Linked DNA regions of Homo sapiens. The protein of the gene in region 4 purifies or fractionates together with the protein of the main gene of each other region. This does not show direct contact. Each region holds a gene or a part of one and is shown on either strand. Other genes may lie near its edges.

Evidence for each region.
Region 1: the proteins of STYX (region 4) and MYH8 purify together in Homo sapiens (affinity purification with mass spectrometry; one large-scale study listed by BioGRID and IntAct). This does not show direct contact.
Region 2: the proteins of STYX (region 4) and HRNR purify together in Homo sapiens (affinity purification with mass spectrometry; one study listed by BioGRID and IntAct). This does not show direct contact.
Region 3: the proteins of STYX (region 4) and C17orf75 purify together in Homo sapiens (affinity purification with mass spectrometry, with the first as the bait; one large-scale study listed by BioGRID). This does not show direct contact.
Region 5: the proteins of STYX (region 4) and CPOX purify together in Homo sapiens (affinity purification with mass spectrometry; one study listed by BioGRID and IntAct). This does not show direct contact.
Region 6: the proteins of STYX (region 4) and CAPZA1 purify together in Homo sapiens (affinity purification with mass spectrometry, with the first as the bait; one large-scale study listed by BioGRID). This does not show direct contact.
Region 7: the proteins of STYX (region 4) and FAM91A1 purify together in Homo sapiens (affinity purification with mass spectrometry, with the first as the bait; one large-scale study listed by BioGRID). This does not show direct contact.

The regions. Positions count from the first base shown.
Region 1 is NC_000017.11:10,418,500-10,423,927, reverse strand, and holds the start of MYH8 (myosin-8), read left to right. Parts: upstream 1-1,977; 5' UTR 1,978-1,998; intron 1,999-2,221; 5' UTR 2,222-2,265; intron 2,266-3,670; 5' UTR 3,671-3,700; coding exon 3,701-3,910; intron 3,911-4,897; coding exon 4,898-5,041; intron 5,042-5,126; coding exon 5,127-5,283; intron 5,284-5,428. UniProt on the Homo sapiens protein: Muscle contraction.
Region 2 is NC_000001.11:152,210,832-152,214,732, reverse strand, and holds the end of HRNR (hornerin), read left to right. Parts: coding exon 1-1,657; 3' UTR 1,658-2,657; downstream 2,658-3,901. UniProt on the Homo sapiens protein: Component of the epidermal cornified cell envelopes.
Region 3 is NC_000017.11:32,335,060-32,339,842, forward strand, and holds part of C17orf75 (protein Njmu-R1), read right to left. Parts: coding exon 4,754-4,783; intron 3,293-4,753; coding exon 3,149-3,292; intron 2,896-3,148; coding exon 2,838-2,895; intron 384-2,837; coding exon 264-383; intron 1-263. UniProt on the Homo sapiens protein: As component of the WDR11 complex acts together with TBC1D23 to facilitate the golgin-mediated capture of vesicles generated using AP-1. May have a role in spermatogenesis.
Region 4 is NC_000014.9:52,732,394-52,737,176, reverse strand, and holds part of STYX (serine/threonine/tyrosine-interacting protein), read right to left. Parts: intron 2,333-4,783; exon of another isoform or gene 2,299-2,332; intron 1-2,298. UniProt on the Homo sapiens protein: Catalytically inactive phosphatase. Acts as a nuclear anchor for MAPK1/MAPK3 (ERK1/ERK2). Modulates cell-fate decisions and cell migration by spatiotemporal regulation of MAPK1/MAPK3 (ERK1/ERK2).
Region 5 is NC_000003.12:98,578,946-98,581,278, reverse strand, and holds the end of CPOX (oxygen-dependent coproporphyrinogen-III oxidase, mitochondrial precursor), read left to right. Parts: intron 1-508; coding exon 509-596; 3' UTR 597-1,833; downstream 1,834-2,333. UniProt on the Homo sapiens protein: Catalyzes the aerobic oxidative decarboxylation of propionate groups of rings A and B of coproporphyrinogen-III to yield the vinyl groups in protoporphyrinogen-IX and participates to the sixth step in the heme biosynthetic pathway.
Region 6 is NC_000001.11:112,622,832-112,626,331, reverse strand, and holds part of CAPZA1 (F-actin-capping protein subunit alpha-1), read right to left. Parts: intron 1-3,500. UniProt on the Homo sapiens protein: F-actin-capping proteins bind in a Ca(2+)-independent manner to the fast growing ends of actin filaments (barbed end) thereby blocking the exchange of subunits at these ends.
Region 7 is NC_000008.11:123,809,427-123,814,209, forward strand, and holds part of FAM91A1 (protein FAM91A1), read left to right. Parts: intron 1-855; coding exon 856-925; coding exon of another isoform or gene 926-964; exon of another isoform or gene 965-1,235; intron 1,236-3,092; coding exon 3,093-3,278; 3' UTR 3,279-4,783. UniProt on the Homo sapiens protein: As component of the WDR11 complex acts together with TBC1D23 to facilitate the golgin-mediated capture of vesicles generated using AP-1.

The DNA.
Region 1 (5,428 bases), on a different chromosome or scaffold from region 4:
ACAGGACAACTTTGAATAATTAGGGAAAATTGGCCCTACTGGTCATCAAAACCTATGCTATTGGCATAGAAATACGGTACAAAATATGGAATCCAGAAACAGATTACATGCACACGAACACACACACAGCTGGATTACAAATCTCACTATTTTTTAAGCATCAGATTGAAAATACAGGATTACACATCTCACTATTTCATAAGCATTAGCTTGAAAATACAGAAGAATATATGTATGACTCTGAGTTCTTGAGTTAGAGAAAGTTTTTCTTATACAATACACACAAAAAACCAAAAATATAAAAGAAAATTTTTTATAACTCTGACTACCTAAAGATGTAAAACTTCTAGAAGATTGAGATCGCATAGTAAAGATCATTATTAAATCAGGAGAAACTTTTTAGAACTTGTATAAACAAAATTATTACAATCTTAAACCTACGGAATTTTACACAGAAATTTAAAAATGAGTAATATCAAAATAATCCAGTGATAGAGGGAATGGTGAGAATATATAAGAAACAAGACTGACCATGAACTGATAATTATCAGTGCTGGATGATGAATATACTAGGTTCATTATGCTATCCCCTCTACTTTTGCATATGTTTGAAATGTTTTCATATTATTATTTATGTACTAACATGGCAAATGATCCAAGAGTGTAGAATGAAAAAAGAAAGTTTGTAAATAAATAATCATACTATCTATATTTTAAACATCTATATTATATATTATAAATTTTCTATGGCCCAATTTCCTTAGACCAGTTTTACTAATTTATATTTTCCCAGAAAATACATATGTAAATGTACAGAAAAGGTCTGCAATATTACAAACTAAACGGGTATCCGTAGTTACCTTGGGAGAAAAGGGAGATACCAGCATTGTGAGTGTTCATCAAAGGGAAAATTTAGCCTAATCTCTAAGGCTTTAATTTTTATGTAATTACAGTGTAAGAGGTTACACACCTGCATATATTTATCAAACCCATAGGCCTGGAATTGTTCTGCATCCTATCTGTGGTGGTGGCTACATGAATCAATACGTGTATAAAAACTCATACAATCATACAACAAAAGAAGTAAATTTTATTATAAAGTTTAAAAATTTTTAAAAATAAAAGCAAAAAACCTCATAAAACTGTCACTTTAAAAGGGTGAATTTGACTCTATGTAAATTATACCTCAATATATCTGACCTTAAAAAAAGGAAAGAGTTTAATTAAAAAAAATCATAATTTATTTAAAGAATAGGGTATAAATTACATTAGTGATATGATATATTAATTATTAAAGCATATTACAAGGCACACATGTACTATATATGCATCTATAATATGATCCCACTTATACGCCTCTATCTTATTTCTGCATTAGAGATTACAGAGACTTTTTTTACTTACCTGTATTTTTTTCTGTAATAAACATATTATTTTCTACTAATAATGTTTTTCAAAGTTAGATGAGTGGGCACTGGCCCAATGGTGGAGACTCAAGGTAGAATCTCTGCTGTCTAAGCCTGGACTTCAAGAGTGAGCATCTGTAGTGGCCCAAGGGAATGCAGTGGGGGGTTCCCGTGGTAGCAAATAAGGAAACGTGCTTAAGGCCCTGACAGCCGTGTGCCCCGGGTATCTGATCATTTGGCTACCACAGGCGTGCATGAAAGAGTTTGCCAAATTGAATATAGCTCTTAAGAACTTACTCTGAGGCCCCATCAGGCACTGTCAAAGATTCCCTTCCCAGCACACTAGAAAGCATTCTCTGCTGGCAGATCGGTCTCTGTCAAATTATTTATAGGAGATTGGTTTGCATACACAAAATGATATGAATACTTCTAATTATATCCAAACATGACAAATGTCACTACAAACTATGCTGAGGGTTCATGTTGCCAAATGTCTTGCCCTAACAAAGAGGAGGTAGTTGCAGCATCAGCACATTAGTTCCTATATAAGCAGGACTGCCCCTTGTGCCTTATTTCCACCAAGAACCCAGAGGTAAGTGATGAAGGCCTTGGAACTCGAAAAACCCCAGGTGGGGAAAAGAGCTGACCTCGTAGTTATCTGTGAGCATTAAACTGCTCTCTCAATCTTAACTTTTGTCTTCATAGAACCAAGCTTTGGGGTAGGGAAACTTCAATTCTGTAACTATAATAACAATTCTGTAACTATAATATTGGAATTTCGGAGCATCACTAATAAGAAGCTTGTTGTTTTACAGAGTGGAACACTTCTGAACCTGCATTTTTATCTGGAACTCCAGAGGTAAGACTTGGCTTTATTAATTTATTGATGACAGAGGGGATATAGTCTAATGAAGCTGTGAACAATCCTGAATTATACACCATTTCCATGTTTTTGCAGTTATATCAGGAAAGAGTGTTTCCGAGTGAGTGTTTATAAATGCTAGAAAATAACTTTTTCAAAATGTCTTCTTCTCAGAGACTATCCTCATTTGGGTTCCAAGATTCAAAGACCGTTTAGGACAGAATTAGCTTCAACAGTGAGTTCTCAGCTGTGCTTAGAACTGTCCAGTGGCAATAGACTAGTCCATGCCAGTCTTCTTCTATGGCAAAGCATTGAGGACTTAGGACATTTTATAGACATTTTTAAAGACTCCAGAAAGATTTTTACCTAGAAATATAAATATAAATATTTTAGCTACCTTTGATTATTTGTTATTTGTTGTTAGAAAGACTTATTATTATTTACTTAACAGGTCGCAAGTATTACATCCACCGGGTGTTAAATACCATGACTAATTTAAGAGGAATCCTGCCCTTCCCTAAGTAACTTTCTAATTGAAAATAAAGGAAAAACTCAACCAATCTAACATGTCCACATTGCAGAGGCCTATCTATTAATCAGAAGACAATGGCTTACATGCATGTGATGTACTCTTAAAACTTTTTTCTCTGTTTTCTGGGTGGAAAGAAAAGAAACCCATGGAATTTATGTGGGAAGAAGGGCCTTTGTGCTGAAGCTCTCATTCCTCTGTGGTTAGATCTGTTAACTGACAGCTGAAATCTCTCATGTCAAAAAAGATTTTGGAATCAAGGCAATGCTAAGTCTGTTGGGAACAACCCAAATTACAAAAAATCCAGAGTATTAGAATGTATTATGTTCTTCTAACAATCCACTGAGAGATACAACACCAAATATCAACATAAAGATGTTAAAAATAATTATTTGCTTTATGAGAGAAAATGGCCATCTTAAAAGGCAAAGATTTTTTGATAGCTTTGAAAATATGAACCTTCATTTGAACAAGACAAACTTTCTTTTCTCACCATATGATTGTCCTGGCATATGGCATAGACAAACATTATGCAGAAAGAGGAGAGGAAATTAAATAATGACAGTTGCTATAAAACAATCCATCAATAGTTTTAGCTGTAGAGGTTTCATTCTAATTCAATTGTAGGTACCCTATCCCTGAGGATCAAGATATGTGATCTGAAAAGGAAATTCACAGTCCTAAAAATGAAATCTCAAATTACAGTCTCACTCCATACTTGTCCTTTAGACTATGTTAGAACACTGGGGAGTGCCAGTTTGGAGGAATAGTTACAGCACAGGCTATGTTCAACATTTCTTTCATTTCAAATCCTAACTCACATTTGTGACTTCTGCTTTTTATATCTCTCTCTCCCGTTTCTCTCCTCCCTAGGCAGAATCCTTTGCTAAATAAATCGCAGCCATGAGTGCGAGCTCAGACGCTGAGATGGCTGTTTTTGGCGAAGCTGCTCCCTACCTTCGAAAATCAGAAAAGGAGCGGATTGAGGCCCAAAACAAGCCGTTTGATGCTAAAACATCTGTCTTTGTGGCGGAGCCCAAGGAATCCTATGTGAAGAGCACTATACAAAGCAAAGAAGGAGGGAAAGTAACCGTAAAGACTGAAGGTGGAGCAGTAAGTGAAAACAGGGAGAAAATACTCCCCATTTTATTTCTTGGTTCAAAAGTTGAAGCCTAACTTACTGGGAATCTCCAAGCCTGTTGCCAATGCAAACACCCTTCTAGTCAGTGTTGAGACATTAGATGTGGAAGGCAAAAGAAATTCACAGCAGTACCTTCATGTCTTCCCTTCCCAACTTCGCACAGGACCTCACCCCACTATGTATGGCCTTCACCATTTCCCTTCAATTCCCCACTTCCTAGTCTGAATGTCCAAACTTGAGGGAAATGAAAACAAGCTCCTCCTATCAGAAGTTAAATATTTACTTAGTTAAATAATGTATTAATATCCCCATTACTTCCAAAAACATGAAGTTTCTTAATGAATGAAAGAAAAAAATAAAAATTTAGCCTACTAAAATAAGAAAAAAAGGATATAAACTGATAAATCTGGGATAAGAGAATGTGGGAGGAAAAAATCTTTTAAAAAGATAGTGTCCTAGCTCATCATAGGAAACAGGTTTTCTTAACATTAAACTCTGAAATGAATATATTTCATGCCTTTTTTAAGAGGACATTAAATAATATAATGAGAAGTATGTGTGATTATAGTTTTGTACCAAAATATACAGGCAAACATAAACCCTACCTCCAACCATTAAAACGAACTGGTCTTAGCCAGGCGCAGTGGCTCACGCCTGTAATCCCAGCACTTTGGGAGGCTGAGGCAGGTGGATCACCTGAGATCAGGAGTTCGAGACCAGCCTGGCCAACATGGCGAAATCCTGTCTCTACTAAAAATACAAAAATTAGCTGGGCATGGTGATGGGCACTTGCAATCCCAGCTACTCAGAAGGCTGAGGCAGGACAATCACTTGAAGCAGGAGGGCGGAGGTTGCAGTGAGCTGAGATCGCGCCACTGCACTCCAGCCTGGGCAAAAAAAGCAAAACTCTATCTCAAACAAACAAACAAAAACGAACTGGTTTCTTGCTTACTCACCAGACTCTAACTGTCAGGGAAGACCAAGTCTTCCCTATGAACCCTCCGAAATATGACAAAATTGAGGACATGGCCATGATGACTCATCTACACGAGCCTGGAGTGCTGTACAACCTCAAAGAGCGCTATGCAGCCTGGATGATCTACGTGAGTGTCTGTAAACACCTTTTTATTTCATGTCTCTCTCTGAGTAAAAACGAGATCCAAATGATAAATGTTCTGATCTTCCCAGACCTACTCAGGCCTCTTCTGTGTCACCGTCAACCCCTACAAGTGGCTGCCGGTGTACAAGCCCGAGGTGGTGGCTGCCTACAGAGGCAAAAAGCGCCAGGAGGCCCCGCCCCACATCTTCTCCATCTCTGACAATGCCTATCAGTTCATGTTGACTGGTGAGTGAGTGAGGCATCTATTTACAGAAATGTGTAAATAGAATCTTTGCAGAACAGACAGACCTCTTCCGAGCCTCTTTATGTTATGATAATACATTCTAGCCACATGGGGCTTCACTGTTTTCAAAAAACTTTCACAGCTGTG
Region 2 (3,901 bases), on a different chromosome or scaffold from region 4:
TCCTAGTCGCGGCCGACATGGGTCCGGTTCCGGGCACTCTTCCAGCTACGGCCAACATGGGTCTGGCTCCGGTTGGTCTTCCAGCAGTGGCCGACATGGGTCTGGCTCAGGTCAGTCTTCTGGATTTGGTCACCACGAGTCTAGCTCATGGCAGTCCTCTGGTTACACTCAGCATGGATCTGGCTCAGGTCACTCCTCCAGCTACGAACAACACGGCTCTAGGTCAGGACAGTCATCTAGGGGTGAACGACACGGATCTAGCTCAGGTTCATCTTCCAGCTATGGTCAGCATGGGTCTGGCTCCCGTCAGTCTTTGGGCCACGGCCAACATGGGTCTGGATCTGGCCAGTCTCCTAGCCCTAGCCGTGGCCGACATGGGTCTGGTTCTGGGCAGTCTTCCAGCTACAGCCCATATGGGTCTGGCTCAGGGTGGTCTTCCAGCCGTGGCCCATATGAGTCTGGCTCCGGTCACTCTTCTGGCTTAGGTCACCGAGAGTCTCGCTCAGGACAGTCCTCTGGCTACGGTCAACATGGATCTAGCTCAGGTCATTCCTCTACCCATGGGCAACATGGTTCTACATCAGGACAGTCATCGAGCTGTGGCCAACATGGAGCTAGCTCAGGTCAGTCTTCCAGCCACGGTCAGCATGGCTCTGGCTCAAGTCAGTCTTCTGGCTATGGCCGACAGGGCTCTGGATCTGGCCAGTCTCCAGGCCACGGCCAGCGTGGGTCTGGGTCAAGGCAGTCTCCCAGCTACGGCCGACATGGGTCTGGCTCCGGTCGGTCTTCCAGCAGTGGCCAACATGGGTCTGGCTTAGGCGAGTCTTCTGGCTTTGGTCACCACGAGTCTAGCTCAGGGCAGTCCTCTAGTTACAGTCAGCATGGGTCTGGCTCAGGTCACTCCTCTGGCTACGGACAACACGGCTCTAGATCAGGACAGTCATCTAGGGGTGAACGACACGGATCTAGCTCAGGTTCGTCTTCCCACTATGGTCAGCATGGGTCTGGCTCCCGTCAGTCTTCGGGCCACGGCCGACAAGGGTCTGGATCTGGCCAGTCCCCTAGCCGCGGCCGACATGGGTCCGGTTTGGGGCACTCCTCCAGCCACGGCCAACATGGGTCTGGCTCAGGTCGTTCTTCCAGCCGTGGCCCATATGAGTCTCGCTTGGGTCACTCTTCTGTCTTTGGTCAACATGAGTCTGGCTCAGGACATTCCTCTGCTTACAGTCAGCATGGTAGTGGCTCAGGGCACTTCTGTAGCCAAGGACAGCATGGTTCTACATCAGGACAGTCATCAACCTTTGACCAGGAGGGATCTAGCACAGGCCAGTCTTCCAGCTATGGCCACCGTGGCTCTGGCTCCAGTCAGTCTTCTGGCTATGGCCGACATGGGGCTGGATCTGGCCAGTCTCTTAGCCACGGCCGACACGGGTCTGGTTCAGGGCAGTCTTCCAGCTACGGCCAACATGGGTCTGGCTCAGGACAGTCCTCTGGTTATAGTCAGCATGGAAGTGGCTCAGGGCAAGATGGGTATTCTTATTGCAAAGGAGGAAGTAACCATGATGGGGGAAGTTCTGGCTCATATTTTCTCAGTTTTCCTAGTAGCACTTCACCCTATGAATATGTCCAAGAGCAGAGGTGCTACTTTTATCAGTGAATAATAAACATAAATGCAATTTACTCAAGTAGCAATTTAAGAAATAGGAAAGTCATCTATGAATTCATCATGAAAGACAAGCAATCCATCATGAAATTCGTTCTAAAAGTGAATCAATGCATTTCTGTCTCTTTCTTTAGAGCCTAAAACTGTAGCATATATCTTGTTATGGGGTTCCTTCCAAAGACTGTTAGGCATTTGTGCTACTTTGTTAGAAAATACTGAGTGGAATAACTTGTTAGAATGAGGGTTAAACTTTGAGGAATAATGAAAAGCTTTTAAAGAGCTTTGGGTTTAGTTGGAGTTGTCTTTTTGAGAGCTCATCATTCATTTATAGATGGTGCCAAAGCTAACCTTACATTTCTTAGAAGCAAAATATTACAAATGCATTACCAGTCCTAGATACAAAGCTTTGTTTTACAGCAATTAGTGTACCCTAATTTTTAGTGTGCCCCAAGTTTGGTGTGTCCCAATTTTTGGTATTGTGGCAGAAGGTGAAGGCTCTGAAAGCAAAGATGCAGCAGCGGTAGTGTCTTTACTTATCAAAACCATCAAGTCCTTTTTCTTGGGTATATATTTAATCAGTAAGTTAATTAGTGGCATAAAAAAGTAGCATCAGGGTCTTTTCCCAAGCCAGTGAGCAAGAGCATTATTTCATAAAGAATAGGGATTTATCATTTCAGGAAAAAAAAAAACATTCAAATGTGGGCTTTAGCTTGTTTTCAGCAGAAAGATCTTGCTCCCTATTTCTAAGAGGCTGCTCAATATTGGGAAATATATTGAGGAGTTATTCCATGGAAATACAATGCTTTCCACCTACTACTGTAGTTCAATAACGTTTCCACCTGAAAAAATATCATCCATGCCCAGATGAAAAGGAAGAGTATCTGTCACTGCTACATAGTTCCTTAATTTGACTGTAACACATTTGTTTCAAGTCTTTGGATTCAAACAACCGGATTGTATTAAAATTGACAATAAATAAATGTTGATTAAATACTAAGACTTTTCTCATCTGTGCTTCATTTCACTTCTTACATACAGATGGTCATCCTAGAAACCAAACCAAACAGCGATTTCCCAATATTCTATTTTTCACAATGAAGAATAGATAAAGCATTCTTAAAACTCAATAAGACAAACTACTTCATTTTAAAATGATCAAAATTCCATCACACTGGTATTGGCAATGATTTTTTTGATATGACACCAAAATCACACACAATAATGTGGAGCTGTCAGCTCCATACATTTTATTGTCCCTGAAGCCCTTAGAGGGAGACAACATATGGAGGTAGAAGGCGATATTTGTCTTGGTTTAACAAAAACTTTTTAGTGTTAGTTTTAATTTTTAACAAAAAAAGTTTTTTAAAAAAATTTAAAACAGAAAAAAGCCTACAGAATAATGATGTAAAGAAAAAAATATTTGTGTTCAGCTATACAATGTGTTCGTGCTTTAAGCTAGGTGTTAATTAAGAGAGTCAAAAAGTTTAAAAATGTAAAAGTCTATAAACCTAAAAATTTACAGTAAGCTAAAGTTAATTTTTACTGGAGGAAGAAATTCTTTTATAAATTTAGTGTAATTCAAGTGTATAGTGTTTACACACTCTACAGTAGTATACAGTAATGTCCTAGGCCTTCCCATTCACTCACCACTCACTGACTGACACCTACAGCAACTTCTAGTCCTACATGCTCTATTCATGGTAAGTGCCCTATACAAGTGTACCTTTTTTATCTTTTATGCCATATTTTTACTGTACCTTCTTTATGTTTAGATACATTTAGATGCACACTTACCATTGTGTTAGTTGCCTACAGTACTCAGTACAGTAACATGCTGTATAGGTTTGTAGCCTAGGAGCAATAATCTATACCATATAGCCTAGTTGTTTATTGGCTATACCATCTATATTTGTGTAAGTACACTCTCTGATGTTTGCCTAAGGGTGCATTTTTCACAACATATCCCCCATTGTTAAGCAACACGATTGTGTACTTTACTATAGGGCCTAGCAATTCCACTCCCAAGCGAAATGACAACGTATGTCTACATTGAAGATTTTTACATGAATGTTTATAGCAGCTTTAATAATAGCCCCAAACTTGAAACAATCCAAATGTCCACGAACAGATGACTGGATAAACAAATTGTGGTATGGCTATACAATGGAATTCTATTTAGCAAGGAAAAAAAGAATAAACTACTGATACATGTAACACAGATGAATCTCAAAAACACGT
Region 3 (4,783 bases), on a different chromosome or scaffold from region 4:
CTATACCTTTCCCAGATCACTTGGAAAAGTAATTATTTTAAAATGTTTTATCCTATTAGGAAGACTCAGCATTTGAAATTCAACTCTACCTTAGTAATATCACTTTCTAGATCTGAGAAAATAAAGTGTGGTCTATCTTGATAGCAAGCATAGTTTGAATATTTGGGGAGGGATGGGAGTCATGTTCAGAGAAAATGAGTATGTTTCTAAATCATCCAAAGTGATTCTCAGTTAAGGAAATGCTCTCATTTGGCAGTACTTACAGCATGTAGCAGAAAGGTAAGCTTTTCCTGAAAGAGAAGAACAACCCTTTGGATTGGGCATACAACATCCTCAAACCAGCTGCTCAGATAGGATTTTATGTGACTCTCCAGGCCCCTTGCCTAAATCAAGAAAGAACATCATTTGCTTTAATATAAGCCTTTCCTTTAGTGGACTTCATATTTTCTTCATCATATCCTTGATGGTGAAAAAGACCAGGATAGACACCTCCCTTTTTAAAGCTAACACCACCAATTCAAAAAAAGAAATTGTGATATACCTTTCCTGGCTTGTTGGGCAGGGTGAGGGTTAAATCTGTACTGAATTTATTTAAAACACACCAAGAAATGCATTCTATAAAATGAAGAGACTGAATAGGGTTCCATGCTATTTCTTCACAGGGAAGAGTTGGGCACTCACAAGTCCCTCTCCTCCCACTGTACTGTGCACTCAATGGAGATACTCACTCAATAATCCTCATTTCCCTGGCACCTGTGGTACAGTGTCTAAAACATGCATAGTATGAGCTTATTAAGTGCCTTTTGAATTAGTCATGTAGATAGAGAATTCATTCGTATTCAGAATGTGAATGGGGAAGGATACAAGTAACTCATCAAAGCACTCCACTCCACTCCAGATGTCAGACATGCTACCGTGAGCACATCTGGCTTTCTAGGCTATACTGCTCCCTGAAGACTAGTGTCACACACGAAGAGCTCTAGTCCGGGAGAACAACTCTATTAGACTTGCATCAGTTGCTCACTCCTGCACTATCCCTTCCTCTCTCCTGCAGTATCTTCTAAGTATGTGAAAAGTATAACTTCTACTATATATGTAATGGGTAGTAAATTTGTGAGAGTCATGACTAACAACTGCTACAAGCTGAAAGCATTGTTTTTGTTTGCTTTTTTGAGACAGGGTCTCACTCTGTCATCCAGGCTGGAGTGCAGTGGTGCAATCATAGCTCACTGCAGCCTCAACTTCCCAGGCTCAAGCGATCCTCCCACCTCAGCCTCCCAAGTAGCTGGGACTACAGGTGCGTGCCACCATGCCTGGCTAATTTTTGTATTTGTTGTAGAGATGGGGTTTCACTTTGTTGCCCAGGCTGGCCTTGAACTCCTGGGCTCAAGTGATCTGCCCGCTTTGGCCTCTCAAAGTGCTGAGATTACAGGTGTGAGCCACCACACCCAGCCAGTTTTTCAAAGGTTTGAATAAGTTGATATGGATATGCCTAATTCATAAAAGATCAATTAATGAAAATAGAATGTTTTTAAGAATCTTTGATGTTTAGTTCAAGAACAGCCATACTATTGCATAGCATGTCTTTGGTGCCAGAGGCTGCATGGACCAGTACTTCTGACCATAATATAAATCTTATATGCCTAGAAATCAGGAAAAGGACATCCTCTTCCTCGCCAGGCATGTTACTACATGCCATTGAATAGATCGAATTTTTCATAGATACAAAACATCAGACGTAGTCTTGTGAAACTTTCAGCACTTACAGGACTATGTTTCCTGTATCCCTTTAAGATCACCTGTAGGCTGGGTGCAGTGGTTCATACCTGTAATCCCAGCACTTTGGGAGGCCGAGGCAGGTGGATTACTTGAGCTCAGCAGTTCAAGAGTTCAAGACAAGCCTGGGCAATATGGCAAAACCCCACCTCTACCAAAAATACAATTAGCTGGGCATGGTGGTGCATGCCTGTGGTACCAGCTACTTGGGAGGCTGAGGTGGGAGGATCGCTGGAGCCCAGAAAAGGCTGCAGTAAGCCATGATCGTGCCACTGCACTCCAGCCTGGGTGATAGAGTGAGACCCTATCTCAAAAAATGAAAAAGAAAAAGAAACCACCTGTAGGCTGGGCACAATGGCTCGTGTCTGTAATCTCAGCACTTTGGGTGGCTGAGGAGGGAGGATTGCTTGAGGCCAGGAATCCTAGACCAGCCTGGGCAACAAAGTGAGATCCCCATCTCGACAAAAAATACCAAAAGTTAGCCAGGCGTGTTGGTATTTGCCTGTAGTCCCAGCTGTTTAGGAGGCTGAGGCGAGAAGACTGCTTGAGCCCCAAGAAGCTGAGGCTGCAGTGAGCCTGATCGCGCCACTGCCCTGCAGCCTGGGCAACAAAGCAAGACCCTGTCTAAAAAAAAAAAAAATTCACCTCTCTACTAGCTCACAAGGTGGCAAGTTTCTAGAATACAGGCGTCTTTGTGTCTACCTATATGATTTGACAAGTAGAGCAATCACAGTATATTAATCATTTCAGTCATTATTTTATTTTTTTAACTCTGTCGCTCAGGCTGGAGTGCAGTGGTGCAATCTCGGCTCACTGAAACCTCTGCCTCCCGGGTTCAAGCGATTCTCCTGCCTCAGCCTCCCAAGTAGCTGGGACTACAGGTGCCTGCCACCATGCCTGGCTAAGTTTTAGTAGAGATGAAGTTTCATCATATTGACCAGGCTGGTCTCTGACCTTGTGATCTGCCCACCTCGGCCTCCCAAAGTGCTGGGATTACAGGCGTGAGCCACTGAGCCTGGCCCCATTTCAGTCTTTAAAAACCATTAAGTCAGTCACCTTACCTCACAATTCATGTTATTTTTCAGCCCTTGAATGTACTTGTCCAATTCAAGCCTGAAAGTATGTTCTTAAGGAAGCAATAAAGGATGAATAATGAAGACAGTATTTCATCTCTCAACAAGAAATATAAAATCTCTCAAATAATGTGAGCTGCAAATGCAAACAAGCCAAGGCAAAATGGCCACATGAAGGTATGAAATTCAACTAAATACACGAGGAGTAGAAAAGCTTTTTGGAGGTTGGTAGTAATATTCTTCCACCTGCCTTCCCATGTTTTCCTTCCTGATGTTCTCAAAAACCAAAGAAAGGATATAGCTCAAGTCCTTTTTCAGACCCTCCTAAAAAACAGACCACATATTCTGAAGGGTTACGTTCAGAGTCTATCGTTACTGTTTCAGGAAGCAGTTTTTCATTTTGGAAAAGGCAGTAATAACAACCAACTCGGTAACCTGGAATTCTAGAAAAGAAAGAAAATGTAAAATGCATTATTTTGGTTACTCATGCATCTATAATTTTGTGGACTGCTCTGAATTCTGGTCATCTTGATCTGGCAACACCATTAAACTGCCCACTAACTCAGAGCTTCCCAGACTTCTCGTTGGTGTACTTGCAGCAGCAAAGAAAAATGAATGTATACCCTGGAGGGCTTTAGTTAAAGCAGCCACTAACATACATGAAATTTCTTTGAATTCTCCTGTCTTATGTGAAAAATTCACACAAATTTCACTCTAGTTCATACCCATGTTTATATTAAAAAAAAGTATGTTCTCCCCTCTCCCAAAGCTTCACAAATTGATGTTTAAGGCAGATGTGCCTGAAGGTGGCCTTATCCTTGGGAAGTGGCCTCAAACTCCTGAGGACCTGTATGCTAACTTCACGGTCTGAGTTGAACTAGAATAAAGAGGTGTAATGGAGGCCGGGCACAGTGGCTCACACCTGTAATCCCAGCACTTTGGGAGGCCAAGGCGGGTGAATCACCTGAGGTCAGGAGTTCGAGACCAGCCTGGCCAACATGGTGAAACCCCATCTCTACTAAAAATACAAAAATTAGCCGGGTATGGTGGTGCATGCCTGTAATCCCAGCTATTCGGGAGGCTGAGGCAGGAGAATTGCTTGAACCAGGGAGGCGGAGGTTGCAGTAAGCCAAGATCATGCTACTGTACTCCAGTCTGGGCAACAGAGTGAGACTCTGTCTTAAAAAAAACAAAACAAAACAAAAAAGGAGAGGTGTAATGGAAAGACAGTTGGAATTGGACTAAGAATGCTCATGTTTAAGCCTGAACTCCATCAATTTGACCAGCCTCATGACTTAAGTTTACATAAACTCTGAGTTTATTTCCTCATCTGAAAATGAAAATAAGAGAGTATCTGCTATATTTCCCCTTTGTAAGGAAAACTACATAAAAGTTTGTGAAAATACAAACTGTATACAAATTTAGTTTTAATAATCAACACTTTTCTTCTTCTAAGTACAAAACTTATTAGCCTGGGCAACATGGTAGGACCCCATTTCTAAAAAAAAAAAAAAAAAAAAATTAAAAAAATTGCTGGGCATCGTAGTGCCTGCCTGCAGTCCCAGCTACTTGGGAGGCTGAGGTGAGAGGATTGATTAAGCCCAGGAGGTCAAGGCTGCAGTGAGCTGTAATCGGGCCGCTGCACTCCAGCCTGGGCAACAAAGCAAGACCCTGTCTCAAAAAAAAATAAACTAATTAAATAAAGTGCAATTGGGTGCCAGGGTCTCTGCCATTCAATTAATTCCATTCCACAAATGTTTATGTGTGAGGCCCAGTGCTCGGGCTGCCAGAGAATAAAGACAAATTCTGCAGGTCTAGTAGGAGCTGATCTTTTGGAGTTTCTCATCACTTCTCATATTTAGTTCAGAAATAAAAACTCAGGACACAGCACATTTTGCACTTACTTTAGCTCCACAGATGCAACATTACCCAGC
Region 4 (4,783 bases):
GTCCCCCCTTATCCACAGGGGATATGTTCATACATTTGAGGATAGTGCTGAATCCTATATACACAATACTAAAATAAAACACAAATTGTACATAGGCTGGAGGTGGGGGGCAACAGTTTGGGGAAGAAAAAAAACATCAGAATACTAGACTTGCACTGGGACATTCCACAAAACAGAAAAGTTAGTATTGCACTTTCTCTCCTAGAAAAAATAGGTAAATCCCTCCAAAGTCCTTTTCCTTTCATTCCCACACCAAGCTTGAGCTTTGCTTAAATCAAAGGAGAAAAGAAAATGTTTCACTCAAATAAAAAGAGAAGGTGGGCAGGGACTGGAGGGGCAGAAGAGTACTCAAGTAAGATATTTTCTAAACCAGCAATTTTTAAACCTGACTGAACATTAGAATCATCTAGCTTCATTCAGATAAATTAAACTACAATAGGTGCTGGTAGGGTCCACGCATCAGTATTTTTAAAAAATTCCTTACTCTAGAGTAAGGGTTAAAAAGCACCATTCTAAATAAAGGAGCTAGAAAAGGAATCCTCAGCCATGTATGTTAAATAATTCCTATCTTTGATCCTGTACTACGGGATTCACAAGAAAAATGGAAAGGGAAACATGGAAAGTTGCTAAACTGCAATGGAAATAAATATTTCACTTTCTGTCAGAAGAGAAGATAAAACATTAACTTTTAAATTATAAAACCAATAGCCCCAGCTACAACCAATTTGCTTAAAAATTGGTACTATCAGCTACTCCTTCTTCCTAATATCTAAGCTCTCTTATGAAAGGTTCAGTCTAAATGGAAAATAGACAATGACCAAAAATTGTTAAATGTTACAAAGGTAAGTATTAAAGTACCAAGTGCCATAGTAGCTGGGGAATTGAACCAGTCTAGAGGATGAGGAAAGGAGTTAGAGAAACTGGCAAACAGGAAAAGCTTCTCTGAAGAAATGTTGCCTAAAGTGGGATCTAACCCAAGGGTAAGCAGTTAATTAGGTGAGGGTAAGGAAGGTGCTGGCAGCCAAGGCAGGGGAAAATAGCAAACATAAAGGCTCTGAAGGCGGGGGGTGGAAATTAAAGCATTCCAGGAACTGAGAGAAGATAAATATGGCTAGGGCTTACAGAGAAAGGAGCAAGAAGAGTAGCTCATAATGAGGTTAGAGAGGTATGCAGATGTCAGACCATACAGGACCCTGGAAATAATGTCAAGGGTTTAAATTTCATCTTCAAAACAATGGAAATTCATGAAAAAGTTTTAAACAAAAAAAGTAACAATCTTTTCACAAACTGACTGATCTAAATTTTTGTTAGCACTGTCCTATACAAAGAATACCAATATTTCAAGAAACGTGAAAGTAATATTCTTGTAGAGGTGACAGAATCATCAACCTATCATAGCTTGATCACATTAACATTAAAAGCATTCCCTGAACTCTCTGCTTGAATTCAGTTTTTATTAAATTTGGTCTGTAATTTGGATTTCCAGGTAGTGCTCCCTGTGTCAAAGAAACAATGCTGGCTGATCACTCTAACTACTTAAGACCATTTGACACTTTACATTATCTCACTGGAGATTAGAAAATTAACAGTGCTTATTAGTCAGTTTATTATGAATAACTATATGCTCCTATTTAATAGTTTATTTATGTGGCCCCTATGTATAGTTTTATCAGCCCAGAAAGTACCCTCTACCTGTGGAAATGTTCCTATGGTTTTGGTGGGAGGGCTACCAACAATAAACTTCACTCCTCTAGCCAAGGAATTAGGGATATGACCTAGATGGGGCCCCTCATTGTATCTGCCCTTTCCTGGCTACAGTGACTGATCCAAAGTGTGGGAACATGAATTAAATTGGGCAATTCCTCTAGATTTCAAACACAGAAGCTGGAAGTGTTCAGTTTTATTCCTCAATAACCAAGCTCATAAAGGTGTGACCCCAGATGGCCAAGCTTCACATCTTGGAGAAGCCAGAGAGAAAGCAGAGACTCCGAGAGAAAGTAGAGATAAGAACTCATGAGAGACAAAGGCAGTTCTGATGCTTTATAATACCTGGGTTTGGTCAAATCCTTGAAACTAGCTGCACCACTACCCTTCTGGATTTAATTACTTTTTTTTTTTTTGAGATGGAGTCTCGCTCTGTCTCCCAGGCTGGAGTGCAGTGGCTAGATCTCGGCTCACTGCAAGCTCCGCCTCCCGGGTTCATGCCATTCTCCTGCCTCAGCCTCCCAAGTAGCTGGGACTACAGGCGCCCGCCACCATACCTGGCTAATTTTTTTTTAAGTAGAGACGGGGTTTTACCGTGTTAGCCAGGATGGTCTTGATCTCCTGACCTCGTGATCCGTCCGCCTCGGCCTCCCAAAGTGCTGGGATTACAGGCGTGAGCCACCACGCCCGGCCGGATTTAATTACTTCTTCTTTTTCTTAAATTCGTTTTTGTTGCTTGCAACCAAAAGATACCAAACATGCAATATTAAGAAATACGGAACGAATTGGCTTTCAGCAGACAATACTTGCATCATTATCCACTAGCTTTAACCATTACCTCTGTCCCTGTGATATAATATGAAATACATGGTCTTTCTCTCCAGTTCCTGTCACAGTCCTCCTAAAACTCTTGGAATTTTCTAATAGGAGTGTCTTTGGTTATTTATGAGCCACTATTTTTGATCAAACCTGATTATGCTAATGAAGTGATTTAGGGTGGGGCCAGTCACCAGAAAGACCATGTGACAAGAGGGTTGAACTCTCAGCCTCACACACACACACACCTCTATGGGAGGGGATGGAGATGAAGTTCTATAAAAACCGTTGAATAAGATTTGTTGAGCTTCTGGATGAAAACACTGGAGGTGCTAGTGAGGCAGGTGAATAGGGTCTGGAGGCAGGGAATCTAAGGCTGTTTCACCCCGACTTCCCAGAACTAACTTGAAGGGAAAACCCTAACTTTCCACGCCTAAGTAACAAAAGGACCAGAGGCTACTCCCGTTGCAAACCACCTACCTTTTCTGCACAGTAGACGGGAAATTGGCTGTCCTCAACAAATCAGACTGACTGCGGGTGGAATCTTCGTTTGCAACTTTGTAACTTCACTCTAGCCACTGAATGGTCGCTGTCCACAACCAAGCGGACTGATGTGGGGGTGGGTCTGGCAACCAATCAGACCAATTGCAAGCCACCTCTTCATTTACATGAGGTGAGCATGGAATGGCCAATGGGAAAGTTCTAGGGGGTATTTGGACCCAAGAAGATTCGGTAAAGCAGCGGGGGTCGGGGGGGAGTGCTGCTAGGGCAGCTCCCACACTGTGGAGTGTACTTTTGTTTTCAATAAATCCCTGCTTTTGTTCTTTTGTTGCTTCATTCTTTCTTTGCTTGGAGTTTTGTCCAATTCTTTGTTCAAAACGCCAAGAACCTGGACAGCTTGCAATCATGACTCTACTGGTGACACTGGGATGGTGGTGTGCCCCTTCCCCCATACCTTGCCCTATTCATCTCTTCCTACTGGCTGTTCACTGATCTTTTGTAGTATCCTTTATAATAAACCCGTAAATGTACTTCCCTGAGTCCTGTAAGTCACTCTAGCAAGTTAACTGAACCAAGGAGGGAGTAACGGGAACCCTGATTTACAGTCAGTCAGGAGTGTATAGGTGACAACCTACTACTTGTGATTACCATCTGAGGTTGGGGGCAGCCTTGCGGGACTGAGCCATTAACCTGTGGGATCTGACTAACTTCAGGTACATATGTGTCAGAATTGAATTATGGGACATTCAGTTCATGCCTGCTGGAAAACTGCTTGGTATGGAAAAACCCCCACACATCTGGTAGCATAAAAAAAAGAGTGTGTTTTCAAGTCCCACACAGAAAAGACAGGTATATATTCCCAGCAAGAATTTATCAGTTTTGCAGGAATAAGGCATACATAATGATATACACAGTAACAGATTAAATGCAAAGTCCGGGAAAATTTTAAACTAGAATTTTTAAGATTAGGGCAGGGAAGAATTGAAGTGTATTAAAAAGAACAATGAATTAGGAGGCCGAGGTCCTTCTGTGTCTTGTGCTACTGTGTTGTTAATTTGGCACATCACTTATTTTCAGTAAGGTACAATTTCTTCACCTGGAATGTGGGACTCCTCTACATTATTTGTAAGGTTGCTTGCAGTTAAGTGCTGAAATTACTGAATCATTTTGAGGATATGAAAGCATACTCCTTCGCGGTGGCTCAAGCCTGTAATCCCAGCACTTTGGGAGGCCGAGGCAGGCGGATCACTTGAGGTCTGGCGTTCCAGACCAGCAGGGCCAACATGGTGAAACCCCGTCTCTACTAAAAGTACAAAAATTAGACGGGAGTGGTGGCGGGCGCCTGTAATCCCAGCTACTCAGGCGGCTGAGGCAGGAGAATCTTTTGAACGTGGGAGGCGGAGGTTGCAGTGAGCGGAGATCACGCCACTGCATTCCAGCCTGGGCAACAAGAGTGAAACTCCGTCTCAAAAAAATAAATAAATAAATAAAAGCATACTCTTCATTCACATTATTGTATGTTAAGTATAAATTCATTTTTATAACTAGCCTAAATATGACCTCCTGTTTTCTAAGAGTATATTGGCCGGGCGCGGTAGCTCACGCCTGTAATCCCTGCACTTTGGGAGGCCAAGCCAGGCGGATCACAAGGTCAGGAGTTTGAGACCATCCTGGCCAACATGGTGAAACCCCGTCTCTACTAAAAATACAAAAAAATTAGCCCGGTGTGGTAGCGGGTGCCTGCAGTCCCAGCTACTCGGGA
Region 5 (2,333 bases), on a different chromosome or scaffold from region 4:
AGAAAATCACAGTCAAATAAGGCAAATCAAATTGGGTATTTTAAGCGGTGACATGGTGAATCCCACAGCTCTATGAGGGCAAGGAGAGACTAGAGGGAGAGAGAACACAGGCTGAGTCATGGTGGCTAGGAGGTGAGATGGACCTTCTCTGCCTATTTGTTTTTCTGAGAAGAGGTATGCATAAGTATTAAGCTAAAGAAGGTTTGCCCATGGATCACCTGAGTTTCTACACTATATGAAACCCTGGTTTATATTAAAGGTGTATTTTGGCTCTGGGATATTAATACTAGCCAAAGCATACCCAAGAGTTGTTAAGAAACTATTTGTTTGGCAAATAGTTTTTTTAAAGGTCAAGTTGGTACAAGGCACATCAGGCACAGTAGAGACAAAGAAGTATAAGGCTTTTTTTTTTTTTATTCTTAGGATTTTATTTTTCATTTATTTTAAGTAAAGAGGTATGTGTGTCATTTTTTATGACGTTTTTTGCTTTTGTTTTGGACATGCATAGATGGGAGTACATGCATTCACCCTCAGAGAATTCCAAAGAAGCTGAAATTCTGGAAGTTCTACGCCATCCAAGGGACTGGGTGCGTTGATGCAGGCAGAATGGCTGTGCAGGGGTTTGGAGGGCACACGATGTGTGCTCCCCATGCCACTGGTCGGCACTTTGCCACTGTGTGGCAGTTACCCGTGCCTTAGTCTTCTCCACTCTGCACCCTACCTCGTGGGCAGATGATAACATGTTTTGGATGCTGTCAGTGATGAATGGTGAGATGGCAGATTGTCAGAGTCAATTGATTAAACCTCATTTATACTTCTAGTGTCATTTTATATGACTAGTTTACAAAATAGGACATTGAGTTTCCAAGTATTGAGATAAGGGAATATAAATAGTATTATATGTATCAGGAAATCTCTCATCTTGTTTTTGTTTCATGTATTTTTTAAAGTTTTCATTTGTGCCACAAAAATCTGTCGTGGAATATATTTTATTTTCATTAATTCAGTGAAGTTGAGACTTCATAGTAATTTTAGAATGCAACTTGAAGGTAAAAATTTTACTTTGTCAATACTGAAGTCTCTGCTGTAATCCTTATATATCTTTCTCCAGAGAACATAATATTGTCAAATAGATACACATTTTTCTAATAGGTATTTAGAAGCACTTGAAATAATCTCTGCATGTGTTACAATTCAGTTATTTCTGTAGTTTGTAAACTCTAAAGTGACATTACTATTATTTTAGAGATGTCTAAGTTGTAATTTTGATTTTTGTGGAACCATTGTTTGTTAATGTTGGGATTCTCTGCACTTTTGAATGTGAAAGCTTATATCCCTGAATTCTGATACTTAAGAGTTTTCTATTTCAGACATCTCTGTGTGGAAGTTGAGACTAAGAATAATCCTAGGGATGTCATGAATTTAGGCAATGTTTCTCATTTGGAAAATGAAATGAGAAATAATTTCCTTCTTTAAAGCAAGTATATATAGTATGAGAAACTTGGAGGCATTTCATACACACGTTTCTTAGGAAAATGGACACATTGAAAATGTCCTCTTTTTTATATTAGAGATTCTGCAGCTCTTTGCTCTTAAGAGCAAATCACAACAGGATTCTTAATGTATGATTTCTTTGTTCATATATTATGAATGTATTATTTTATTTGCTTCGTAATAAAGTTTATAAGGAAGAGCATCTCATACATATCATTATCGTGGAACACGTTGAATGTTTGTGATTCTGTGTGGCCTTTTTGGGGCTGGAAAATGTATGAATTCTTCAACTGTCTTACAAGAGATCTGCTAATAAATTTTATTATTAAATAAGACTAAGAAATATTTATATTTTTTGTTGCCAGGATAATATAGGAAAACGCATATATTTCTTAGTACAGTTGATCCTTGAACAACATTAGGGCTAGGGGCCCCAACTCCTCCTTACTGCATGCAGTTTCAAATCCTTGTATAACTTTTGACTCTCCCAAAACTTAATCACTAATAGCCTCCTGTTGACTGGTAGCCTGACCAATAACATAGTCAATTCGCACATGTTTTATGTTATATGTATTATATACTCTTCTTACAAGCTAAAGAAATGAAAATGTTATTAAGGAAATCGTAAGAAAGAAGATATATTTGCTATTCATTAGGTGGAAGTGAATCATCGTAAAGGTCTTCATCCTCATTGTTTTCATGTTGGGTAGGCTTAGTGGGAGTAGTAAGAGGAAGAGTAGGTCTTGCTCTCTCAAGGGTGGCAGAGGTGGAAGAAAATCTGCGAAGAAGCAAAACTCTTCAAACCTGTGTTGTTCAAGGCTCAGCTATGCTAATGCCAT
Region 6 (3,500 bases), on a different chromosome or scaffold from region 4:
GTGACCCAACAAACAGAGCAAATTTTAATTTTAAGCCTGTTATTATAGTTCCTATATACCTACAATTTTTAAATTAATGGAAATGGCTTTCAGGGCAAGGGTCACCATGGCAGCCACCTTGGTTAGGCTTGGGCTCTTGTCTGTCAAGCAGGTTCAGGTTCAATTCTACCCCTTTGAGAAGTAGAGATGATGAGGACCTTCCTCTAGATGATGAGTAATGAGAAGGTCCACTCCACCAATCTCAACTGCTCAGCTATTGTGGACATGAGGTGGACATGCAGCATAATGACTTCGAGCCCTGTGTGGACATGCTGTTCAGAGATGCTGTGTGGTCATCGCCTCATTATGTGCTGCACCCATCTCACCACTCTGGAAATGCTCACTGTCTTTGCCTCCCACATTGAGGCCAGAGATGTGGCAAGGAGCCAAGAATGTGCTGGTACTGGACAATGACAGTGCCAAAAAGACCAACAAGCTGATGTTAGACTGGACTAGAACACTTATCTAAAAAGAGGTTTACTTAATCATTCAAATCACTATCTGGAGGGCCACAGAGTAAGGCCCTCTAAATGCTTGGCAAGACCAAGATATCATAATTAGGAAGCTTACTTATGGGGGTGGGAAGCTGAAAGTCCTGTGAACACAATGTTTCTGGGTCAAGGCAAGATTATGGGGGTGTCTGGATGAACCTGAATTTATTTTACTTTCTTATGTCAATCACTGCTTATCCCTTCCAGTATGACTTCTCCCAGTGCTCACTCGAGGTACCTCTTCACTCTTATTTACCAAATCCAGTTGGAAAGAATACTGTCAGAGTGAGTGCTGTTTTCTCCGTCCTAATCTTTCTATCTCAGTAGCATTTGCCACTCTTAATTCATTCATGCCTTGGAAACTTTTTCCCTCTTGGGTCCTTTTTCTTTAAAACACACACCTGGGTGTGTGTTTTAATCTGATCGCTAAAGGAGAGTACTTCTAGCTGGTGAAGGAAATACTTTCATTAGGGGCTTTGCAAGGCTCCAAGTATATATATACACCATCATTTTGGTAACCATAAGGCTTTGCAGTTTATGGGATCTATTAGGAAGATGCTCCCAGAGGGGTCAAATGTTCCCAGCAGTGGCATGGCAGAGCACCAATGATGGCAGATGCTCAGATAGAAGGAATGCACAGAGGCACCCAAACTGTGGACATACTCTTGAATACAAGAAACACCTAGAGACTAACAGAAATAATTGTAGGGGAAGGGGTGTTTTACAGGAGATGAAGGGGTGTGAACTGGAGAGATATGAGAATTAATGAAGTTGTGTTCTCTTTCATACCAATAGGCTGTGCATACACTGTGTGCTTGGCACTATGCTAGGCACTAGATAAAGAGACATGGTTTCAATTATCAAGGAACTCAGTCTTGTAATCAGGGCAAATGTAGGAAAGCAGACAATGAATAGAACCTCCCAGAACATTTTTGTGTTTCAATTTTTAAAGTAGAGATTTTTCATTAGAGTTTGAAATAGTTAATTAAATTTTCTTGGGCTGGTTTGATCCAATTCCTCCCTACTTCTCTATTTTAGATGGAAATTGAGGCCCACCCATAGAGGTTAAGTGAGGTTTCCAAAATCAGTGACAAGGTGGCTAGAAGCACGAAAGGGAAAGGCCATATCTAACACTCACAATCACTCTTTTCCATTACATCATAATACCTCTTTTTTTTTTTTTTTTTTTTTTTTTTGATGGAGTTTTGCTCTGTTGCCCAGGCTGGAGTGCAATGGCGCGATCTCGGCTCACTGCAACCTCCGCCTCCTGGGTTCAAGCTATTCTCCTGCCTCAGCCTCCTGAGTAGCTGGGATTACAGACATGCACCACCACACCTGGCTAATTTTGTATTTTTAATAGAGACAGGGTTTCACCGTGTTGGTCAGGCTGGTCTCTAACTCCTGACCTCAGATGATCTGACCGCCTTGGCCTCCCAAAGTACTGGGATTACGAGCGTGAGCCATCATGCCCAGCCCATAATACCTCATTTATAATCCACTAAATGGATGTCTCTACTCTGGTTTTTCATTCATACCTATATGGAAAAGAAAAGTATAGTGAAAAAAGCATGGCTACATAATCAGAAAAACCTGGGATCTGAATTTTCTGACAAATTTACACTACTTTGTTTAGCATTAAGCCTGGTCGTAATAAAACAGCTAAGTGTTCTGGAAGAAATTATGATAAATCAGTACTACTAACAAGACTGGACATGTGAGTTTGCACCTGCTTATTAGGCTTTATGCTCCTGTCCTAGGATTTCTTTTTCTTTTCTTTTTTCTTTTTTTTTTTTTTTGAGATGGAGTCTTGCTCTGTCACCCAGGCTGGAGTGCAGTGGCACAATCTCGGCTCACTGCAAACTCTGCCTCCCGGGTTCACACCATTCTCCTGCCTCAGCCTCCCGATTAGCTGGGACTACAGGCACCTGCCACCACGCCCGGCTAATTTTTTTGTATTTTTAGTAGAGACGGTGTTTCACTGCGTTAGCCAGGATCTCGATCTCCTGAGGTCAGGTCTCGATCTCCTGACCTCGTGATCCACCCGCCTCGGCCTCCCAAAGTGCTGGGATTACAGGCATGAACCACCGCGCCCGGGCTTTCTTTTCTTTTTTTTTTTTTTTGAGACGGAGTTTCGCTCCTGTTGCCCAGGCTGGAGTGCAATGGCGTGATCTCGGGTCACCGCAACCTCCGCCTCCCAGGTTCCAGCGATTCTCCTGCCTCAGCCTACTGAGTAGCTGGGATTACAGGCATGTGCCACTGCGCCCAGCTAATTTTTGTATTTTTAGTAGAGATGGGGTTTCTCCATGTTGGTCAGGCTGGTCTCAAACTCCCGACCTCAGATGATGCACCTGCCTCGGCCTCCCAGAGTGTTGGGGTCACAGGCGTGAGCCACTGGGCCCGGCCTGTCCTAGGATGTCTTAACAGATTATATGAATACCTCTCAGCAAAACTAACTGAAAAGTGAAGATGGAAGAATGACAGTTTTAATATTAATTGATGACTTGTTAGAAAACAGCCACACCAAACAATCTTTAGGGCTTGCTTTATCCTACAATGGTAACTAGTAAATTAAGGAGGTAATACATAATCAAGGATCCAGTTTAAAAGCATAAATATTTGGCAGGTGCAGTGACTCACGCCTGCAATCTCGGCACTTTGGGAGGCCAAGGCAGGCGGATCACGAGGTCAGGAGTTTGAGACTAGCCTGACCAACATATTGAAACCCTGTCTCTACTAAAAATACAAAAAATTAGCCGGGTGTGGTGGCAGGTGCCTGTAATCCCAGCTACTTGGGATGCTGAGGCAGGAGAATCACTTGAACTCAGGAGGTGGAGGTTGCAGTGAGCCGAGATCGTACCACTGCACTCCAGCCCGCTGGGAGACAGTGCAAGACTTCGTTTCAAAAAAAAAAAAAAAAAGTATAAAATATTTTTCATGTGCTCTAACAAAGCCCTCATATTTCATCTATTT
Region 7 (4,783 bases), on a different chromosome or scaffold from region 4:
TGATGACTTTGCAAAATTTTCTTCACTTTCTACATTTTCTAAAATGGATATGTATTACTCCTTAAAGATGACATGTAGGTTTTATCTTATATACCAGCTCTGATCCATTGTGAGTAGCTGCTAAGAGGCAATGTTGTAAAGGTTCTGAGACAAACTGGGTTAGCAGGAAAGAGTATAATTGAATCTAATTGTCATGATAGGTGGCTTGGAGAGGTGAAATCCACAAGTCAAGATCTTCTTATTTTAGAAAATGAAGTTGGACAATAATTCATTTAAATGGTGTAATGTAGCTTTTATCAGAAAATGAAGAGTACTCAGTTGACAATTTCAACATCTATTCTCTAAAAACAAAGTAATATACATGAGTAAAAAATAGAAATACTATAGAACTTTAAAGATTACCACTATAATTTTTACTGACTTACATATTTGAAAAATATTTAGGTAGGTTGGTGTGTGTTTAATCTGTTATCAGGTTGTCTTTTGCAATTACTTTGGTTGTTTAAAGGTTGTGTCATAGTTGTCATTCCTCAGAGTGCCTAAATCTTCATTTGAAAAGTTTTCTTTCATTTAACATTTATGTTTATAGTAGTTGAATTTTTTTAAAACAATAACTTTGATTTTAGTTACACGATGTATTTTATTTCAAAATGGACTTTTAATGCATGACTACTCCCTATTATTAAAACAAGCAAAAATTTCATTGATGAGAAACACTGAAATTGTTTTTTAAGATGTTTTGTGATTGGCCAGGATATATAGATGCATTTAAATTGCTAAAATTAAACTCTTATGAGAAACTCATTCTTGCCTTTATGTTTGTTTTAAACTGTTTCTCGCCTTTTTTTTTTTCAGCCTTCAAAACCTCTTACATTCCAGTAGAAAACTCTCTCTGCAAGTCCTTAACTTTGTTCACTCATTCCAGGTAACAAAAACCAAAAAGTCCAAATGGTACTTGTACTGAGCTTTAAGTATGCACAACACTTCTGTGTTTGTTTTTGAGTCACCACAGCAGCAAGATATGAAATAAACATTAATTTTATTGTACAAATGAAGACATTGAGATTCAAGAAGTTAATGGACTTGCACATTTCACTCGCCAGGTCTTCGGAGACCAAAGCTTGATCTCTTTGTTCTGTGCCAGTGCTTTATTCAACAGAAATGTGTTAAGTGTCTTTTATGGGCTGTGTGCCATGCTAGGTGTTAGTTTTTGGTTATAGCGCACTTCCCAATAACTAAAGCGATTCTCCACTGCTGGGATGGGCTGTCTGTTGTGGCAGCGAAGGCCAGTGCTCTGGACTTCTTGTTTTTCCCCCATCCCCAAGGAAAGAAAGAATATTCTAGACTTGATTTATAGGTAAACTTTTAAAATAGAATATTTCTGTTCAGAATATCTAATTCAACGTTATGAAATCAATATTTTGGAGTTTTACTTCATTCATTCAGTTGGTAAATGCTTGACCCTGACCTATGCCAGATTCTTTGCTGAGTGCTGTGGAAACAGTGATGTGTAAGATACTAATGGAACTTAGAGAATGTTGTGGGAGACAATAATCAGATAAATATTAAGATATATAAGTTCTAAAAGATTTTAAAAAGTACTTTGAAGAAGCCAACTATGATGAAATCTGCAGGTAGACCTAATTTCAATAGGTGCAGGATAATATAAGCTGAAGCCAAAAAGTTGGAAAAGAATATTCCGGCAGAGCTTAGGTCTGTACTTCCTGTGTCTGGGAAATGTCCAGTGAACAAAGAAACAAATGAAGCCCAGTGTGGCAGAAACTTCATGAAAGAGGGGTAGAAGCAAGAGGTAAGGTTGAAGAAGAGGGCCGGAGCACGGTGTGCAGGGCCTTCTGGCATATGTTAGAGAACTAGTATTTTACGTTGAGTGCAAAGAGAAATGATTAAAGACTTTTAAACAGGGGAGAGAGGTTATTTCTGAAGGACTATTTTATAAAAATAGGCAAAAATGGAAATTTTATAAGGATGCAATAAATGGAAAAATTTCAAAATTCTGTCAATACTGGCCTGTCTGTTGTGGCAGTGAAGGCCTTGGCCATAGTGAATTAATAAATTAAACTAATTTGGGATATATTTTGGAGATAGGTTGATAAAACTTGATGATGAATTAAATGTGAGGAAAAGATTAGGGCTGTGGAGGGAAGGGAGGGGAGGGATCATGAATGATTCTTATGTTTTTTGATTAGCTGGATGTGTGAAATAGAGAAGACTGGGGAGGAAGAGGGGAGGGAAAATTTGAGAGTTCAATGATGGGCATACTGAGTATAGAGTGCATGGGGAAGCATCTGAAATGAAGTGTCAGATAGGTGGATGTTTGAGCATGGAGTCCTGGGGGGAGGTCTGTGCGGAATATATGAATCTGAGAAGCGTGGAGTAGGTGGATTATTCTGGTGCTTAGTGTTTTGTAAGGTTTTTTTTGTTTGTTTGTTTTGTTTTTTCCCCGAGATGGAGTCTGGCTGTGTTGCCCAGGCTGGAGTGCAGTGGCACGATCTCGGCTCACTGCAACCTTTGCCTCCTGGGTTCAAGCCATTCTCCTGCCTCAGCCTCTTGAGTAACTGGTATCACAGGCATGTGCCACCACACCCAGCTAATTTTTTTGTATTTTTAGTAGGAAGAGGTTTCACCATGTTGGCCAGGCTCGTTTTGAACTCCTGATCTCAAGTGATTCACCCGCCTCAGCCTCCCAGAGTGCTGGGATTACAGGCGCACAAGCCACTGCACCTGGCCTTTGTAAGTTTTTTTTTTTTTTTAGAGATTTTTCTTCTGTTAGGTAATACTTTGGGGTTAGGTTAGGTCTTGTAAAAATGAACTTTTGCTTTTCCCACAGTCTCGTAGCCTCTTATTTCTATTTAAAAGGACTTACTACAGTTTAACGTTGTTAGTCATTTTTGCACATATTAATACCTGTCATTGATTGCTTTGGGCTCACAGTGTAGATCTTTGCATCTCCTGTACTGCTTTGCAATCCATAAACACTTCTCAGGTAATCAAGGTCTCTCTTTCTCATTAGTTATATTAAGTGGTTTTGGTAAAGTGTTGAATATCATTTCTCTTGTTTCTTGATCTTTTAGGAAGGTGCTTCAATATTGGATATTCACACAGAGCCCAGTTTTTCAAGTTTGCTTTCACAGTCATCGTGTGCTGACATGGGTGTTCCACTTCCTGCAAAAAACTTAATATTTAAAGATGGTGTCTTATCAGAATGGAGTGGACGGTCACCTTCCTCACTTCTTATTGCTAATCTCCATTTGCAATAATTTGGTTACACCATTTGTTGCTCACACTTTCTGCCTTTTTTCTTTCTTAACGTTAGCTTTATAGTGTCAGCCACTAAAAAGCATCCTGCTGCTGCAGTGCAATTCTTGCTTAACTAATATTAAAAGTTGGGGAACATATTCATGTTTTCTGAAGTTTTGCTCATTATTGCACATCTTATTGCGACAAAGTGCTTTTTAGCAGCCAGCACTGTATTTTTTACCTTGAGACAATCTGCATTTCTTTTATAAAACTAAGTATATACTTTATAGGCTTTATGATGACTGTTATGTTTATAAGCAGTCACTATGAAAATTGCAATGGTAATTTTATATGTTAGTTTATCAAACATAAATCTTGTTTAATTTTATATTTTGTTACCTATACTTTGGGGGATCAAGGGAAGAGATGGAACTCTTCCTCTGAAAAGGCTTCTTGGTACTTAAAGTAGTAAAACTATAAAACAATAAACATCCAGTATTGAGAGATGATATGATAGGGCATTATGAATTCCTATGGGTGTCTGTAAATTATGTATGTCAGTTGGACATTGTAGAAGGTATGTAAATCAGCATAGTTGTGTATAACTTAACCTTGATTTATAAGGTCTTAAGATTATGACTATTCATTGACATCTCATGAGAAGCTTTAGAAGACTTTCTATTTTTAAACACCATTTATATGTGGACTTCTGTTGTCACTGACTTTGGGCTTTATATTTTCATAGAGTCTTTATGGAAAAAATAGAATTTATTTTCCACTCTTGTAGCTATAGCTGCTGCACACTTTCACCCTGATTTATTTTTTTGTTTCTTAGCTTTGATGTTTTCAAACCAAGGATTGTGATTTTAGGTTAGAATTACATATTAGAAGCATTAAGACTATGTCTTTGGATCAGAATGCTTTAGTGATAAACCTACTTTGAAGACATACTCTTAAGCAATCTGGATCTTAAATTTATGTGAATACTTTTTTAGAAAATGATAAAGAAAAATGGAATTACTTCAAAGTGTTTCTTGAGTCATTGATTCTTTTAGCATCTCAAATGTTAATTAGAATAATTGGAATCACTTTTTAGACTTTTCAAGTTACCTTCCTTGGGAAGTTTGTGCAGTGTTATAGTTTAGTTTAGCTCCTCTTACAGGGTAATGGTTTGCTAGTTTAAAACTGTAACCAAACGAACTGGTCAGACAACATATATCTAAAACACTTAAAATGTTAGGAAGTTTGGGAATGTTATAACCTAAACGTTTTTGCTGGTAACTTTTTGTTATTTATAGATATTTGTGTATTTAACATACATACTTCAGGAAATATATGCCTTTCCTAAAACTTAACCATGCATTCAATACCATGGCCTATCTATAGAATTGAATATTTTGGACCATGTTATCTGTGGCACAGTCAGTGCTGTGTTTGAGGTAAATGCAGTAACGGTTAGTTTTCTACTTTGTCTTATAGAAGGTAGAAACCATGTGTATGTTATGTTTGTCTATAAAAGAAAAAA